4 linked regions of the Homo sapiens genome follow. The protein of the gene in region 1 purifies or fractionates together with the protein of each later gene. This does not show direct contact. Each region holds a gene or a part of one and is shown on either strand. Other genes may lie near its edges.

Evidence for each region. The genes of interacting proteins can lie anywhere in the genome.
Region 2: the proteins of RHOBTB2 (region 1) and DHCR7 purify together in Homo sapiens (affinity purification with mass spectrometry, with the first as the bait; one large-scale study listed by BioGRID). This does not show direct contact.
Region 3: the proteins of RHOBTB2 (region 1) and CEP72 purify together in Homo sapiens (affinity purification with mass spectrometry, with the first as the bait; one large-scale study listed by BioGRID). This does not show direct contact.
Region 4: the proteins of RHOBTB2 (region 1) and MTO1 purify together in Homo sapiens (affinity purification with mass spectrometry, with the first as the bait; one large-scale study listed by BioGRID). This does not show direct contact.

What each region holds. Positions count from the first base shown.
Region 1 is NC_000008.11:22,997,635-23,003,121, reverse strand, and holds the start of RHOBTB2 (rho-related BTB domain-containing protein 2), read right to left. Parts: upstream 3,575-5,487; 5' UTR 3,017-3,574; intron 1-3,016. UniProt on the Homo sapiens protein: Regulator of cell proliferation and apoptosis. It likely functions as a substrate-adapter that recruits key substrates, e.g. MSI2, to CUL3-based ubiquitin ligase complexes for degradation. Required for MSI2 ubiquitination and degradation.
Region 2 is NC_000011.10:71,437,666-71,441,893, forward strand, and holds part of DHCR7 (7-dehydrocholesterol reductase), read right to left. Parts: intron 3,776-4,228; coding exon 3,562-3,775; intron 3,172-3,561; coding exon of another isoform or gene 3,121-3,171; intron 1,419-3,120; coding exon 1,214-1,418; intron 279-1,213; coding exon 147-278; coding exon of another isoform or gene 139-146; intron 1-138. UniProt on the Homo sapiens protein: Oxidoreductase that catalyzes the last step of the cholesterol synthesis pathway, which transforms cholesta-5,7-dien-3beta-ol (7-dehydrocholesterol,7-DHC) into cholesterol by reducing the C7-C8 double bond of its sterol core.
Region 3 is NC_000005.10:615,340-619,567, forward strand, and holds part of CEP72 (centrosomal protein of 72 kDa), read left to right. Parts: intron 1-2,489; exon of another isoform or gene 2,490-2,510; intron 2,511-3,650; coding exon 3,651-3,778; intron 3,779-4,228. UniProt on the Homo sapiens protein: Involved in the recruitment of key centrosomal proteins to the centrosome.
Region 4 is NC_000006.12:73,482,237-73,486,464, reverse strand, and holds part of MTO1 (5-taurinomethyluridine-[tRNA] synthase subunit MTO1, mitochondrial), read right to left. Parts: coding exon 4,221-4,228; intron 4,017-4,220; coding exon 3,845-4,016; intron 1-3,844. UniProt on the Homo sapiens protein: Component of the GTPBP3-MTO1 complex that catalyzes the 5-taurinomethyluridine (taum(5)U) modification at the 34th wobble position (U34) of mitochondrial tRNAs (mt-tRNAs), which plays a role in mt-tRNA decoding and mitochondrial translation.

The DNA of each region.
Region 1 (5,487 bases):
GGGGGCTTTAGCAGCCCGGAGTCATCCCTCCTAGGCTAAGGAAGGCTGAGCTCTGAGTGCTGGAGGCTGCCCAGGCACCCTGGCTGCTGAGCCATCCAGCCCAGAGCCAGGCCACCAGCAACAACAGGGAGGCTCCATTCCTGCTGGGCTGTAACTGGATGCCAGCATGCAGGGATGCAGACCGAAATATCCAAGTAACGATAGCAACTGGGATCCGTGCGAGTGGATGCATCTCAGCAACCTAAGCAAAAAGTGCAGCAAGGACTTCTCAATGAGACAACCTCCTCCGCCTTTTTGGAATGTTACAGGATCTGGACCCTTCAACGAGGTCTCCATGCAGTGCCCTCATGGTCTCCAGGGCAACTGTACCACCCCTTCTCTCTCCTAACCCTCCCTCAGCAGACAACCGTTTTTTGTTTTTGTATTTTTTTGAGACGGAGTTTTGCGCTTGACACCCAGGCTGGAGTGCAGTGGCATGATCTCGGCTCACTGCAGCCTCTGCCTCCTGGGTTCAAGTGATTCTCCTGCCTCAGCCTCCCAGGTAGCTGGGATTACAGGTGTGTGCCACTATGCCGGCTAATTTTGTATTTTTAGTAGATACGGGGTTTCGCCATGTTGGTCAGGCTGGTCTTAAACTCCTGACCTCAAGTGATCTGCCCGCCTTGGCCTCCCAAAGTGCTGGGATTACAGGCGTGAGCCACCACACCTGGCCCAGAGAACTGTTAAGAACTGTTATTCTAACCACAGGCTTCCTCCTCCCAATTCTCTCTCCTGAACTGAGGACCGGGAACCCCACTTTGACAGTTCCTGATCTCAAGTTGAGGAATGTGCTGGCGCCAGGAGGCAGCATCTGGGCTGTGGTTTCTGTTTTGTCGAGTGAATACCAAAACAGATATAATCCCAAATACAAAATATGTGCAGCTGGAGGATAAAGATTAAAACCCAAGAGCCAAAAGAACTTCTTTCTCAAGTTCCGATTCTCCCAGCATGTAGGTCTGTAGACAGAAGCGGGGGAATGAGGAGGCCTAATGGAGGGATGCCAGTTCTCAAATTCAGGAGCACCTTGACAGTGAGAATAATGCCAGAACACCAGCAGAGCAGTGCTGGGCCAAGTTCAGCTACTTTGTGATGAAAACACTGCTGCCCACCTGTGCTATGTCACCTCTAGAGTTAAGCAGTGGTCAGCCAATCAACAAGTGGAAATTGACAAATACTGTGCCATGAGTTTAGACATCAGACCTTCTGGGTTGCGCAACCCCTTCCATCCATTCCCCAGCCCCTTCAGCAGTCCCCTTGTCCTTCAGCTGCCTCTCTGTTTGTATCATCTCACCCTTTCTACCCTGTCCCAACTGCCTGACTGGCAAACTTCACTGTCCTATCTAGGAAGAGGCAAGTCACTTATATTTTCTGGGCATCAGTCTCCCCCTCTGGGAAATGGGTATGAAGACATTGGAAGAGTCTCCTGAACCGTGGTTAATTTGTGCCAAGAGAGGCTGGGCTGAAAGGAGGTATTTGTCTTCTTATGTAATGTGGTATTATATAATGCTAGATTGCATATCTATATGTGTAATTATATCTGTCTTTAAGATACAGACTGGCCCAATTCAAGTGTTAGAACTCTTAGTCTAATCAGGCCTGTCTTAAAGGAGGATCCTGTCCTGGAGAGAGTGTGCCAAGAGTAATATAATTTTTGCCCTAGGATGTTGCTGATGTTGTATCATTGCTGATGTATGGTGATACAGCCCACTCATTGCTGATATATGGTGATACAGCCCATTCAGTGAGCCTCTCAGCTTCCCCTCTCCCTCCGGCTCTCTCTTCTTCCCTGACTCCAGACTCTCCCTCACAATTGCCTCATCCCCACTCAATCAACCTCCATAAACTATGACCTCCTCACCACCCAGCCCTGGGCATCACAACCCCCAACTCACTCCTCTTCCATGACAATCGCAAAGTCACTGGCATGTGTTCCTTCCATCCCTGTCCCATGATCCCTGTGCCCCTCCAAAAACAGCCTCCTGCCCACCGCTCTCCCAGCTCTTTGTACTTGGTGCAAGCCAAAACCCAAGGTGTGCTGAAATTAGCTACAAACCTCGTGCTCTCCCAGTCCCACCCCCACACCCCTACACACACTCTTTGCAGAGCTCAGAAAGGGCCCCTTTCCCTCCCACAGCTGATAGGAGGCTTGTTCATCTGTGGCTGCCCTAGTCTGGTTGTCAAGGAAACAACAGAATCTCCCTGGGAGCCTGGCTTGTCTCCTAGCAACCAGTATCCCACATCATCTTACAAAATGGGAATGGGAGGAAAATCCTGAAAATGAAGGTAAAATCAAGGGAGATGGATTGAATGGAGAATTGGAAGGAGAAGAACAAAGAGAGAGTGGACTCCTAATTCGGGGAGGCTCCCACGGGGGTCGCTGGCATTGCAAGAAGCCCCGTGCAGATCCAACAGAAAGCAAGGCCCAAAGGGACCCTGAATGGTCAGATTAAAGAAATGCAAGCCTAAACACAGATAAGCCCCCTCAAACCTAAAATGTGGACACATCACCAAACACCGCCAAAGATCTCCCCAGTAGTTTCACAGAACTCAGTTACATAGACTGCAATGGAGTTGAGTTCAAAGAACCAGCTCCGGAACCGCCAGCAAAACACCCCAATTCCACTGTTGTTTTGTGTTTGTTTTCTTAACAGAATCACTCCCACCACTCTGGACCGTTTTTCCTTTTTTCTGACACGCTACTCTGCACACACACAAAATAGAAATTTAAAAATTTTTAAACATCGAGAAGGGGGAGGGGCACGACAGGCCGAAGCAATCAAGTCATCTTCCTTTCCCTAGAAACACCGGAAAGGATTAGGCTCCAGCCCCGCTGTACCCAGCAGCCGAAGCCAGAGCCCAGGGACTAGCGGGGCCCGGGGAACGTAGCGAGGGGCGCGGCAGGGCAGGGAGGGCGGAGCGGCGCGTCTGCAAGGGCTGCTGGCCACCCCGCCATAACCGCAAGCAGCCATCTACTTACACCACTACATGTGACGGGGTGGCTTCTAGCGTGAGGAACACATCTCTTCCTGCTGAGCACGCTCATTTTAGTGAAATGTCAGGGGTCCCTCCGCGCCTGCAAGTTGGGACGACGCCGGCGCCGCCGCGCTGCTGCTGGGCTCCAGCCTCCCGGCCAGCTCGCGGCCACTCAGAAACTCCGGCAGGGCAGCCCAGGCCGGACGTGGGCCCAGGAGCGGACGCGCGCGCTGCACTGCAGCCGCTGCCCCTTCCGGATCAGCATCGCCCCGCGCGCCAGGCGCCCAATGTCACGGCGGCGCGCGGAGCCGGGCTGCGGAGGCAGCGGGCGGCGCGCAGGGGCGCCGGGAGAGGGGCGAGGCCGCCGCCGCTACGCGCCCGGGCCCGCGGCGAAGGCGCTGCCGCGAAGACGCCTGGCGCTGCAGTCCCAGGTACCGCTCGCGACCTCCTTTTTTCATTCACAAAAAAAGGATAGGGAAAAAAAAAAGAAAAGAAAAAAACGGGAGGGTAAAAAAAGGAGGAGAAAAAAATCGCACCCAAGACGACAGCCGTGACGGGCCCCGCCCACTGCCGCGCGCAGTTGGTGGAAAGCGTTCGGGGGGCGGGGAGGGGGCGGGCGGGGGAAGAAGGGGATTGGACGCCCCGCAGATCCCGCCTCGCAGCACCGCTCCCGCCCACCGCCCGCGCTCTTCCGCCCCTCCCGCAGCGACGCCGCGGGGAGGGTCTCGGCTCGCGGGTCTGGGTGGCGCCGGTCCCTCCACCTGGCGAGGCGCAAAGGCTCTCCGGACGCCCACGGGGTTTTCCCCTTTCCTTCGGGAGGCGGGGGAGAACCTCTGAGAGGCATCCTAGTGCACCCTGGAAGGGATGCTAGTTGGAGGAGAACGTGTGGTTGTAAGCCCAGGCCCCCACCACTTGCCCACGGGGAGGCGACGGCAGGGGCAGTCGGGGGGGCGGGGGGCGGGGGCCGGGTAGGGACGAATAACCGGCGTTTCCATACAAGCCCTCTGCTGCTTTGGGAATTTTCGTGGCACTTGAGAGCCTTCCTCCCTCCATGGCCCTTAATGAGTTGTGGGGTGGGTACCTGTACCACGTTACCTGTCTCCCACCTAGGCCTTCTTCAGCGGGTCCCCACCTCCATCCCATCCCCCTCCTGTTGCCTCCTGGAGTTCAGTAATAGCTGCTAATCTCTGAAAGAAACACCATGAAGTGAGTAGCCTCGAAAATCGTCCCTAAGCCTTCTTTGGGTTTTCTGCCTCAATTTACCCCTCTGTAAAATAGAGAGATTCTAAGGTATAACATCTATAACCTGAGGGGTCCCTAGAAGACACTTTCCATATTCAAGGCTGGTTTTATCAGGATAATCTTTTTTTTTTTTTTTTTTTTTTGAGTCTCCCTCTGTTGCCCAGGCTGGAGTGCAGTGGTGCAATCTTGGTTCACTGCAACCTCCGCCTCTTGGGTTCAAGCAGTTCTGCCTCAGCCTCCCGAGTAGCTGGGACTACAAGTGCACGCCACTATTCCCAGCTAATTTATGTATTTTTGGTAGAGACGGGGTTTCACCACCTTGGCCAGGCTGGTCTCGAACTCCTGACCTCGGGTGATCTGCCTGCCTTGGCCTCCCAAAGTACTAGGATTACAGGCGTGAGCCACCATGCCCAGCCAGGATGATCTTGACTGCTAGTGTTAAGTAGTCAGCTCAGTCTGGTTTGATTCATCTCCTCAGTTACCTCTGGACAATTTTTAAAGCCCAGACCAGCCTGCCACCCACCTGAACCGCCTCCACCACTCCTCCATCTTGTGCTCTGAAAATGCAAATCCACTCTAATATTAGTTTATGCAAAATATGATTAGGAAGAGAAATTTACTGCCAAAAGAAAGCCGGGTTAAAAATGAATTTTGTGTTGTCTGAAGCATGCTTCTCATCTGTGAATGCATATACTTGGAAGCTGTCCCTCAAGGTGTTTGTGATCAACGTGCCTACCTACCTGGTCAATGTACAGGAAGTGCTCGGTTGTTGGAGGATGCTTCTCCCACCCCTTTCTCAATCTACTCAGAGCTAGCCAAGAGGTTAACAATGACTGACAGTGCTACTTACTTCTCATTTCTGGTTAGAACTCACCCTCCATAAACCAGAAAGTACTTATTTGAATACATATTTAGGAGAGAAAGTAAACCATGCTCACACATGTTCTTCCTCCACATGTTTGGCATTGAAGAGACTTACCCCATCTTCTGTGTGCCAAAGAGCCCCTGCGCCAGAGAAAATCATAACTTGAGATCTCTGCATGATTCCCACGGCAGGCCAGGGTCTCTCCCACGGACACCCTGTTCCCTCCACCCACCTCCAGAGACCAGCTGAATGCCAGATGCCAGTTGACATCACCTTTCACCTGTCCTGGCAGGACCATAGCCCCTGTGGAGCAAGGAGTAGGAAGACAGAACTCCCGTCCACCCAAAGTCATGAAGCAGGAGAGGGTG
Region 2 (4,228 bases), on another chromosome or scaffold:
TGAGCTGGCTAATACACGAGGCCTTCCCTTCTTCCTAGAAACAGGGGGCAGCTTTGGTGCCCCCAAGGACAGACGCTTCTGCAAGGAGAAAGCTTAGCATGTGTCTGCCAAATGCCCCGCTGGGCCAGCTCTGCCCACCTCCTCACCTGCAGCGTGTAAAGATAAGGCAGCCAGACACAGTCGCCCCAGCCCAGGTACCACCCGAAGTGGTCATGGCAGATGTCAATGGTCTTCAGGTACCAGGTTTCGTTCCAGAAGAAGTCAATCACGTAGATGGCCTGCAAGACAGAAGCAGCCGCTGACCACCCCCGGCCCTCCTGGGGCCCCCATGGACCTCGGGGAAATCACACTCCACGCAGATGCAGCAGGGGGTGCTCGGGAGCTGCTCAGCAACTTCCTCAATGCTGGGGCTGTTCCTTCCCTGCGGCTGGGGCTGTTCCTGCCTGGGTCATGGGCAGGGCTAAGGGCTTCCTTGTCCTCAGAACCACCCCGAGCCCATGGCCCTGGCATCTCTCCCAGCCCAGGTTCTCAGGGCTTGCAATGGCGCGTGCCAAGGGGAAGGGATACATTCATCCCATCCAGGTCAACCTCCTGCCCGAGCAACGTCCACAGCTCCTGACAGGCCTCCCTCACCCTCTCGGGTTCTCCTAGCCAGCTCCCGCTGGCTCCCTGGGTGACGCTTCCGAATGCACCTGATCGCTGCCACCCTGCACCCCAGCTCAGCACACACTTTCTGGGTCTTGCTGCTTTTAAGATAAAGAGGAAGACTTCCATGAGGCCTCCAGCCTCACCTGGCTCTGAGCTCCTGAACGCTCTCTGGTCAGGATGCGGGATGTTTCTGAGTGTCCCAGACTTGCCACCCTCTCTCCCTACAGGGGGTTCCTGGAGCATGCACTCTTGCCTCCACTCTACCAGGTTAACTCCCACACACCCCCAGATTCTACCCAGGTGTAATCCCCAAGGGAGACCTTCCTGGACCACGCCTGGCTGCGTAGAACCTGCCTCCTCCCCTCCCAGGGCTGGCAGAGACAGGCACCCAAGGATGGCTTCCTTCACCAAGTGCTCGCCGGCTGCTTCCTGGTGACACCTGGGGAGGGCAGCTGACTCTCTTTTACAAGCAGTAGATTAAGGTCATGGGAATACGCTCTGGCTTGCGGGTTCCCCCAGAGCCTGCCGGCATCGGCGTTTCACCCTCTCCAGCCATGACAGGCACCTGCAGGACGTTGACCAGGACCATGGCATTGGTCACATGGCTGTGGAGCTCCCGCTGCTTCGCTGCGAAGGACAGGTTGATGAGGGTCCAGGCGACGATCCCGGGGCGCCCATTGAAGAACAGCTTGAAGTCAAACCACTTCCCGATCCGAGGGTTAAACTCGATGCCCATCATGTAGTTGTAAAAGAAATTGCCTGTGAATTTGCTTAAAAATATAAATAAAAGATACATTTAGTGGATGAGCATATCTCACAAGATGAAGCCACCTTACTTAGCGAGAGCCCAGCACTGGCCCAGGGTCCTAAAGGGTAACGTGAGACGGCGCAGGCAGAAGCTGGCCATGAGCCGCTGGGACCCCCACGGCTGGAATGCTTGTCGGCTGGTTCCTGGCGCCCTCATTCACTTTGCTTTGCATTCAGCTGCTGCTCAGCAGAGACTTCCTTAGGCAGAAGCCCAGGGGCACCTGCTCTGCACCCGGGAAGGGTGGGAGACCGGCCCTGGGCTGGTACCTGGGTTTCTCTCTACCCTTCTCCAGATGCCCTTGACGCATGGCACAGGTGAGCTGAAGAACTGGCTTGATTGCACTGAGATTACGTTCTGGGGCCCAAGCACACGGTTTGAAGCCGACGCAGGGCACGTGGGCCCTCATGGGTGAGTGACATTATAAATCACGCCAACGTAGAGAATGACAAACGCACCCTGGGCCCGGCTTCCAGCATGTGCAGGACAAGTTCTTTGACCAGTTACCTGAATCCCCCAATCCCCGGAGGGCCAGAGCATCAGCCGAGATAACCCCTGTGGAGACCCTGACTAGGTCTAGCTGGCTGAGGACACACAACAATTTCTGTGTTAACTAGAAAATCCTATTTTCATGTCCAGTTCCCTCAGGTAGGGTAAGTAGAAAGAAGCAAAACACACAAAGTCTACATGATTATAAGGTAGCGAGGATGATTTCCAGGAGCCATTGAAGGCCAGCCTCGTTATCTGATAACACACAAGCTACAAAGTGTCATCCTCCAGAAACATTTCCCAAGAGCCTAGGTGTAAACCACACTGGGGTTTTTTGGATCCCCCAAACTGAACTGTAAGTCCCACTGCCTACAACTGTCCACAAGAGAACCCCCCAAACATTGGTTTATGATGGATGGATGGATAGATAACAGGGTGAGTGGGTGGAAGGATGGATGAATGGGATGGGGAGAGGAGCAGGTGGATGGATATATGATAGGCAGGGTTGAGCTGGGGTGCAGGGTGGCAGGGATCAGGTGTGTTCAGAAGTGTCACCCAGGAAGCCAGAGGGAGCAGGCTAGGAGGGCCTGAGAGGGTAAGGGAGGCCGGTCAGGAGCTGCGGACATTGCTCAGGCAGGAGGTTGACCTGGATGAGATGATGCATTCCTTCCCCTCGGCACATGCCATTACAGGCCCTGATAGAGTGGATGGATGGGTAAATGGATGGATGACGGGCAGGTGGATGGGTGGGTGGCTAGATGTGTAGGTGGGTGGGTAGGTGGATAGGTGGATGGACAAATAGATGACGGGTGGGTAGACAGACGGGGTGGAGGGTGGATGGGCAGGTGGATGAGATGGATGATGGATGGGTGGGTGGGTAGGTGGAAGGATGGGGAGATGGGCAGGTGGATGGGTGTGTGGCTAGATGTGTAGGTGGGTGGGTAGGTGGATGGGCAGATGGATGAATGGGTGATGGGAGGGTAGATGGATGGATGATGGGTGGGTGGATGTGGGTGATGGATAGGTGGATGGATGATGCATTGGTGGGTGGGTGAATGGGATGGGGCAATGGGTAGGTGGATGATGGGTGAGTAGGTAGATGAATGGGTAGGGGGGTGGATGGGTGGGTGGGGAGATGGGCAGGTGAATGGATGAGTGGACAGAGATGAGTGGCTCACCACTGTCCAGCCATGGGAATGGGTACAAGCCAGCAGGGCTCTCCTGGGAAGCTGTTAATTAAAGCCACAGGGACAATAAGACTCTTCACTAAGGTTGTTTTGGGCCTCACCAGCTTATCCAAAGAAAGAGGCAATGGGCTGCCTGTGCCCCAAGCCAGAAGTTTTTCCTGGCTTCCTTACCCCCACGCCAGCCCTAAAGGCAATGACTTGGCCACCACAGCTGACCTGGCCATCTTCAGCTGCATTCTTGCCAAGGCTGGAGAAGCCACCAAACATTCAGAAAGGATGTTCCCCAGGGTGAAGCAAGTTCCATCCCCCTCCTCCTCTTCCACGGATTCTCAGTGCTCAGGGCTTTACAACCACCTGCCCCAGGCAGCAAGAAAGGCCAGGGGTGAAGTTTGCACTTTCTACATCAGGCTGGACCCGCTGCTAAGAACATACCAGTCTCTGGCGCTGGTGGGGAAGAAGTAGCCCTTGACCATGGCGAAGGTGGAGACGGCATAGCCAAGGATGTTGGCGCACCACAGCAGTGGGATCCAGTTGTCGAAGATGATGGTGGGCGAGAACCAGGACAGGAGATGAGCGTTTGCAAACCAGAGCAGGTGCGTGAGGAGCCAGGCTTGCAGGCCATTGATCTGATACTTGTTCACAACCCCTGCAGATGAAGGATTCAGAAATGAAGGCGCTTTCCCAACCCGCAGTGAGGAGCTTGGCTGGGCTGAAGCATGCCTGGCGGGGGCCCTGGTCACTTTCTGGGCCTCTGCTGCTGCGGACCCTCATCTGGGGCCCCAGGAACCATCTCTGAGGCCCCTATACCCTTGGCCAAGGAACTACCTGCTCCTAGGAAGAGGGAGGGGAGGCTGAGTCCATCCTTTGGTTCTGCATCTCGTTAACTGGCCATAGGCTGAGTGACAGGTGTGCAGTCTGATAGGGAGGTCAGGGCTGAGGGGCAGAAGCAAGTGAGGATGCCCCTGTGGTATGCCTGGCCCCCTCTGTAATTGTTGGGGAGCACCTCAGCCCATCCACCCCTCAAAACAGGGAGCTTCTGGGGGCAGAGTTGGGATGCGGTTCCAGTCTGCACCCACGTGAGAGGCACAAAGCCAGGCTC
Region 3 (4,228 bases), on another chromosome or scaffold:
TGGCCAGGCTAGTCTCGAACTCCTGACCTCAGGTGATCTCTGCTGGGCTCCCAAAGTGCTGGGATTACAAGTGTGAGCCACGGTGCCTGGGCCTTGTTCCTCTTTTTTCCTGGTAATTTTCTTTGTTGAGACATCTGTCTTATTTGATATTACTGTTGTTACGGTAGCTTCTTTTGATTGGTTTTTGCATGGCGTATCTTTTCCTATCCATTGCTTTGAACTTTTAACCTACCTGTATCTTTATATTTGAAATTAGTTTCCTGGTTCATTATTTTTATTCACTCTGCTAATCTCTGTCTTGTAGTAGTGTTTTAGGCCATTTACATTTAATCTAATTGTTAAATATTAGAACTTAAGTGTGCCATTTTATTGTTTTTTGATTGTTTCCTGTGTTTTTTCTTCTGTTTCCCTTTTCCTGCCTGCTGTGACTTACTCGAATATTTTTAGTATCTCATTTTGATTTATCTGTTATGTTTTGGTGTATATCTCCTTGTATGGTTTTCATAGTGGTGGCTATACAAATTACAATGTATTTATGTAATTCAACACAGTTTACTTGTACAGGTATTTTACTACTTCTAAGTGAAATATAGAAACTTTATCACCATTTAGGTCTCTATCCTCTCCCCTTTACAATTTAGTTGTCTTAAGTATTTCCTCTGCATACCTTGAGAACCGTATTAATATTATGATTTTTTTTAAATACCTAGCCTTTTCAGTAACTCAGGAGGAAACATATTTATCTGCATGTTTATCTGTTCTGTTATTTTTTCTTCATTCCACGATGCTCTAGGTTTCTTTCGTTTTTCCTTTATATTTGAAAAAATTTTTTCAGCAGTTGTCTTAGGGCAGGTCTGCTTGTGACAGATTCTCTTAGTTTTTCTCTACGGTTTTACAGTTTTCATCTGTCATCTCCATTTTGCTATTAAACTGCTCTTGTGATTTTTTGTTATTGTATTTTTCTTTGAAATTTCTATTTGTTTCTTCTTTATATCTCCTGTTTCTTTGCTAAGACTAGTTTTTCCTTTGTCTCAGGTGTTTGTAATTGCTCATTGAAGTATTTTTTATGACAGTCACTTTAAAATCCTTGTTAGACCTAAGTTCTGTGTTCTCTCTTGGTGGTATCTGTTGATTGACTGTGTTTTCTCATTCAAATTGCCATTTTTCTGGTTCTTGGTCATTTTTTATCATATTGTGGACATGCTGGGTATGATGTCATGAGACTCTGCTTCCTGTTTAAATCCCCTTACTTGAGAAGACTCCTCACTCGAGCCTGCTGGGTGCCACCTTGTTGCCGGGACAGTCATGGAGCTCCTGCCTCACCCACGGCCTCTGGCAGACCCTACTGGCTGGGAGAGTGAAGGGCACCACCTCGTTCTAGCCAGGCCGGGACAGCAGTCAGGATCCATTCTCACACCCCGGTGCTGGCTGCTGCGCAAGGCCAGGTGGACGAGGGGTGTGTGTGTGTGTGTGTGTATGTGTGTGTGTGTGTGCGCGCGAGTGGGGGTTTGCTTGCAGGAGGGCTGATGATGTGAAGAGAGTCTGTCCTGCAAGGCCCCTCCTGGTGCCAAGTGGACGAGGGGTGTGTGCGTGTGTGTATGTGTTGTTGTGTGTGTGGGTGGGGGTTTGCTTGCAGGAGGGCTGATGATGTGAACAGTGTGTGTGGTTGCAGGAGGGCTGATGATGTACAGAGAGTCTGTCCTGCCAGGCCCCTCCTGGTCCTTTGGCCATCGAGAGCAGGCTTACGGTTTTTGGTCTTTTTGTGTTTCTGGGCTGCCGACTTCTGTGGCACCCAGAGTGGGATGTGTAGTAAATAAGCATAAACAAAACCCCAGAGTCAAGCCAGGGACTCAGCGCTGGGTTCTCTCTCGAGTGCCGAGGCCCCTGGCTGGTTGGCTTCTGTTCCTTTCAGTCCCCCAATGCTTGTTCCGTATATTTTCCTCCAGGGCAGTGGGTCTAATATGCGGGAGGAGCAGGTTGAAATGTGTCCTCTCCATGTTGCCTGGAACTGGAAGAGCTCAAACCAAATTTTAAACTTAATCAGAACATATTCTGGTTGGGTGTGGTGGCTCATGCCTGTAGTCTTGGGAGGCCGAGGTGGATGGATCACCTGAGGTCAGGAGTTCGAGACCAGCCTGGCCAACATGGTCAGGAAACCACAAGACTGTCACGGAAACCCTTTTCTTTCAGTAACATGAGCCAAAGGTCACTGCACCTTGTCCCCTCCTGACCCTGTCCCGGTGGCAGGGTGTGGGGGACAATGAACTGCTTGTCTGTGTGCCTCCAAGTGGGGCAAAACCAGGCAGCATCCTGCTGTTTAGCTGCACCTGAGACGATGCCTGAGGGCTACCTGAGGAAACAGGGAAACGTGGGGTTTTAGCCGGATGTGGTGGCGTGTCCCTGTAATCCCAGCTACTCAGGAGACTGAGGCGGGAGAATCACTTGAACCTAGGAGGTGGAGGTTGCAGTGAGCCGAGATCGCACCACGGTACTCCAGCATGGGCAACAGAGTAAGACTCCATCTGAAAACAAAAACAAAAAAACCAAAACATATTCTAAAACATAAATGTTCCCAGGAAAGTATTGATGTATTCGGATCTAAACTGCCTTTTTGATTACGGAAACTTTCATCTTGTAATTAATGTTGATGTAGTGACTGCTTATGGGGTGCGTGGAGCTTGCACAGCCCGACCACAGTTGTAACAGGAGGACAGCAGACAGGTTACCCGACGAGTGGGTTTCAGATGGTGATGGCTGCAAGGGGTGACAGAATTGAGCAGCCAGAAGTGGAGGCGGGAGATGAAGTAGAGGGGTGTTCCTGGGGAGAGACGGTTTTGGAGGGAGAGGCAGTAAAGGTGGGAAGAAGCGTGTGGGCTTGGAGGTATTGTAGAGATAAACATAAGCCGAAACTTCAGGTACGTTCCTTGCTCGTCAGTGCTGATATTCCAACTCCAAAGGAGTTGCACTGAGTTCTAGGTGCCTCTTTCAGATTACGAGGATACATATCTCTCTGAGAAAAGCTGAAAATACAGAAATGTGTAAGAGGGAAAATAAAGGGATTTATTCCACAATAGGACACATGTGTTAAAGTTTGTCTTTCAATCTTTTTACATATACTGTTAGAGGAAGAAATGTTTTGAATGACCCTTGTCAGGCACAGTGAGGAAGGCTTTATTCAGAACCATTGAGGTGGGCCTGGGGCCACTGCGCTGGGATTTTGCAGTGGGGGAGAGAGATGGAGCTCAACTCCAAGTACAGCAGGGGCCGGGGGGAGTTTATAGCCTAGGGTCAGGGTGGGGGCAGTGGATGGAAAATGACTGAGAGGACACATGAGGAGTAAGGGGATTTGGGCTAAACCAACTGAACAGGATTATTGCGAAAGAGAGGCCAGGGTGAGCAGACACCACCTATGGGATCTGGGGATGAGGAACCTGAGCAGATACTGAGGGTGGGGGTTTTGGCCGCACTAAACTGGACTTTACAAGGAAGGGCACAGATGGCCGAGGAGAAGATTCAGGAGCCTGAGTAAAGTTGAATTAAACCAAGAATCTGTGTCAGTTTCTACTCCATATCCAACACCAAGAACTTGACCGTTATTATAATTGTTTTCAAAATAAAAGATTAAAATCTTACAATTTTTCTATTCTTAGCTGAGCTTCAGTCATTGTCTATTCCTGGAACTTACCAAGAGAAGATCACCCACCTGGGACATTCTCTGATGAGTTTAACAGGTCTGAAATCTTTGGATCTCTCGCGCAACTCCTTGGTTAGTCTGGAGGTAAGTTTTAGGTCTCTTTCTTAAAATTTATTGCTATCAACATCAGTGGAAAGTCCATTCACAGCAGAAACGGAGTCTGTTTTGTAACCCTCTGCTTACATCTGTATACGGTACACTTTGTGTTGCGTATTTTTGTGTTTACCGTGGGCTACATTTCATACACATCACGTTACGTTGTGTTGTCGCCCTCTGATGACGATGATTATATCTTTAAAGGAAATGAAATGAGACCCCAGAGACTTACTGAGTGGCAGTGCAGTGGGCCTGGGGCTGCCTCCTGGGCTCCTGGCAGGGTCACCCTGGAGAGAGATGCCTAGGTGGTGGTGAGGGGAGCTGTGCACAACTACCATGGCCTGATTGGCCCTGACAGAACCGTGGGATGCGCCTGCCCTGAGCCCGATGCCTGAGCATTATGGAGGCTGCGTCTGCATGGCCTGATTGGCCCGGACA
Region 4 (4,228 bases), on another chromosome or scaffold:
TGCCTGGCCACATACTGTATGATTCTAGTCAAATCCATAGAAACAGAGTAGAATGGGGTTACCAGGGGCTGGGGGAAGGAGAGAAAGGGGGAGTTACTGTCTAATGGGTATAGTGTTTGAGTTTTGCAAGATGAAAAAGTCCTGGAGATCTATTTTGCAACCATATGAATATACTTAAACTACTGAAATGTACACTTACAAATAGTTAAGATGGTAATTATGTTCTTTTTTGGGGGGATTATGTCTGTAATCCCAGCACTTTGGGAGGCAGAGGTAGGAGAATCACCTGAGCACCAGAATTCGAGATAGTTTTAAAAAAATCTGTTCACAAGGCTTTGAGCTATTCTCAACTCCAAACTTCAAGAACTGCTTTGAATCAAGCCTAAGCCTCAGAGTACAGAGCTCTGGCAAAGAATGGATAAGTTAGCATACTTCAACAAAGCCAGGAGGGAATTTCTGAGCTACCTAACACATCAATACATTTCTCTGTAATCCTGACAGAAAATGTGTGTGTGTGTGTGTGTATGTGTTACGCATAGGTGCACATGTACATGCATTTGTGTATCTCTTCTGTTAAATGCCTGTTCAGAGTCAGGTTCAACTGGTCAGCGCTTACTACATAGTCTGGCATGTATGCAGCAAGTGTATTTTTAACCGGATTTTAAAATCTTTTTAGCTTTATATGTCTGGGCATTGATCAAGTGAGTTCGCTAAAAAAGGCTAAGGCCAGGCACAGTGACTCATGCCTGTAATCCCAGCACTTTGGGAGGCCAAGGCAGGCAGATCTTGAGGTAAGGAGATTGAGACCATCCTGGCTAACACGGTGAAACCCTGTCTCTACTAAAAATACAAACAAAAATTAGCCAGGCATGGTGGCAAGCGCCTGTAGGCCCAGCTACTCAGAAGGCTGAGGCAGGAGAATCACTTGAACCCAGGAGGCGGAGGTTGCAGTGAGCCAAGATTGTGCCATTGCACTCCAGCCTAGGTGACAGAGTGAGACTCCGTCTCAAAAAAAAAAAAAAAGAAAGAAAGAAAGGCTAAGTGGTAGACTGCAAATATTCTCAAATCAAATATGTAGACTGATTCCTCCTGAAGGGAAATATGCCTGAATTAAAAAGGAATCTGGCCAAATTACCTTTTTAAACTGACCTTTTTAAAAAAAATCCATCTAAACAAAATGGCTACTCCTGGGATTGTTATGGTAAAAACATAGCTGATAAGTTTTCATTGTTCATTTGTTCATCTTTTTATTCATCAGTTAGCATCTGAGACTGCTGAAAACGATCACTTCCCACACTCTCAATATTCATCAATACACATCAGTCACATTCAATGCAAGTTCCTATTACACGAATTAGTGTGATATTTGTTATAAAAGAAAGCATAGTGTTATATAAATTCTTTTTTTTTTTTTTTTTGATACAGAGACTTGCTGTGTCACGCAGGCTGGAGTGCAGTGGTGTGATTTCGGCTCACTGCAACTTCTGCCTTCTAGGTTCAAGTGATTCTCCTCCCTCAGCCTCTTGAATAGCTGGGATTACAGGTGTGCTCCACCATGCCTGGCTAATTTTTGTATTTTTAGTAGAGACAGGGTTTTGCCATGTCTGGTCTTGACTTCTGGCCTCAAGTGATCTGCCCACCTCAGCCTCCCAAAACGATGGGATTACAGGCATGAGCCACTGTGCCTGGCCTGTGTTATAAATTATTTGTCCAACTTTTGAAATAATGTGAACCCTCCTAAATTTAAACAAATGAATAAACAGCTGGAGAAATGAGTCAATTTTAAACTGCTTACACTACAACCATTTCCTGGTGCCTAGTGTAAGCCAGTTAGCTAGTAAACAAATATATCCACTGCTATAGTCTGAATGTTGGTAGTATCCCCCACTTAAATTCTTATGTTGGAATCTAATGCTCAATATGACAGTTTTTAGAGGTGGGGCCCTTAGGAGGTGATTAGGGCATGAGGGTTCTGGCGCTTATAAGTGGGATTAGTGCCCCAATAAAAGAGGGTTGGGGAGCTTTTTGCCCTTTTGCTATGTGAGAACACAGCAAGAAGGCACCATCTTGGAAGCAAACAGCAAGCCCTCACCAGACACCTAATCTGCTGGTGCCTTGATCTTGGACTTCAGTCTCCAAAACTGTCAGCAATAAATTACTGTTGTTTATAAATTATCCAGTCTAAGGTGTTTTGTTATAGCAGTCTGAATGGACAAAGATATCCACCATCCTTATTTGTGAATAAGGCTGTCATTTCTATGAATGAGATCCCCTGATATGAAAGATGATTACGCAAATTCTTTAAAACCTGCTGTTACTATTATTAAAAATCTGTTTCATTGCTGGTGCTAGTGCTTTGGGAAACCCTCATGAAAATAAAAACTTGGGCCAGGCATGGTGGCTCATCCCTGTAATCCCAGCACTTTGAGAGGCCAAGGCAGGTGGATCACTTAAGGTCAAGAGTTCGAGCACAGCCTGGCCAACATGGTGAAACCCTGTCTCTACTAAAAATACAAAAATTAGCCGGGTGTGGTGGTGCATGCCTGTAATCCTAGCTACTCAGGAGGCTGAGGCAGGAGAATTGCTTGAACCCGGGAGGCAGAGGTTGCAGTGAGCCGAGATCATGCCATTGCACTCCTGACAGAGTGAGACTCCATCTCAAAAAAAAAAAAAAAAAAAATAGCCAGGTGTGGTGGCAGGCGCCTGTAATCCCAACTACTTGGGAGGCTGAGGCAGGAGAATCACTTGAACCCAGAAGCTGGGAGGTTGCGATGAGCCGAGATCGCACCATTGCACTCTAGCCTGAGCAAGGAGAGTGAAACTCCATCTCAAAAAAATTAAAAACAAAGGAGTTTCCTTGCTATAGCTCATGGACAAGATCAGATCATTCCACATTGCTCCAAGACTAGAAAAGAAAGCAGATAACAACTTTTCTTGGTTTGAGCCTTCTAAATCTTATGAAAGCCAAAAGAACTCAATGGGAGCCACAGAGAAATCATATAAAAAATAAAAATAATAATTTAGAATATATATATATATGTGATTTTTTCTTTTCTTTGAGACAGGGTCTCACTCTCACCCAGGCTGGAGTGCAGAGGCGTGATCTTGGCTCACTGCAACCTCTGCCTCCTAGGTTCAAGTGATTCTCCTGCCTCAACCTCCCAAGTAGCTGGGATTACAGGTGTGCACTACCACGCCCGGCTAATTTTTGTATTTTTAGTAGAGATGGGATTTTGCCACATTGGCCAGGCAGGTCTCAAACTCCTGAACTCAAGTGATCCGACTGCCTTGGCCTCCCAAAATTCTGGGATTATAGGTGTGAGCCACTGCATCCAGCCATATATTTTTTAATACTTAGAAAACAGATGAGTTAGGCCGGGTGCAGTGGCTCACGCCTGTAATCCCAGCACTTTGGGAGGCCGAGGCGGGCGGATCACGAGATCAGGAGATCGAGACCATCCTGGCTAACACAGTGAAACCCCATCTCTACTAAAAAATACAAAAAATTAGCCGGGCGCGGTGGCAGGCGCCTGTAGTCCCAGCTACTCGGGGGGCTGAGGCAGGAGAATGGCGCGAACCCGGGAGGCGGAGCTTGCAGTGAGCCGAGATCGCACCACTGCAGTCTGGCCTGGGTGAAAGAGCGAGACTGTCTCAAAAAAAAAAAAAAAAAAAAAAGAAAGAAAAAAGATGAGTTACAGCTAACGGATTTTGAAAAGAAGCCAAAAACAAGCTACATTCATTTGAAATGTGTAGGTAGGAACACATAGGTAATGTCTCTATGAAATGATCTTATGATCTTATTTTTCTATAAAAAGTGAGAAAGGTCTATATTAAAAATGCATACCTGACAGGCAGACTTCTACTAGTACTTATAGAAGCCTCTGGGATTAATTTTTTCCATTTAGAGCTCAAAAACTCAATAGATTTCAACACAGAAATGCCTTCTTCTAAAGAAGACTTCATCCAACAAGCTCTTTCATATCGTTGTTGGGACACACAGCCAGCGTCTTTATACCCTAGGGAAGGGAGAAAGAGAATATAATGAGAAGTGTGGTTTTTAAAGCAAATTTTTTTGTAGAGACAGTGTCTCACTATGTTGCCCAGGCTAGTCCTAAACTCCTGGCCTCAAGTGATCCTCTTGCCTTGGTCTCTCAAATTGCTTGGATTATAGGTGTGAGCCACCATGCCTGGCTGGATTGCAGGACTCAGGAAAGAGTTACCTCGCAGT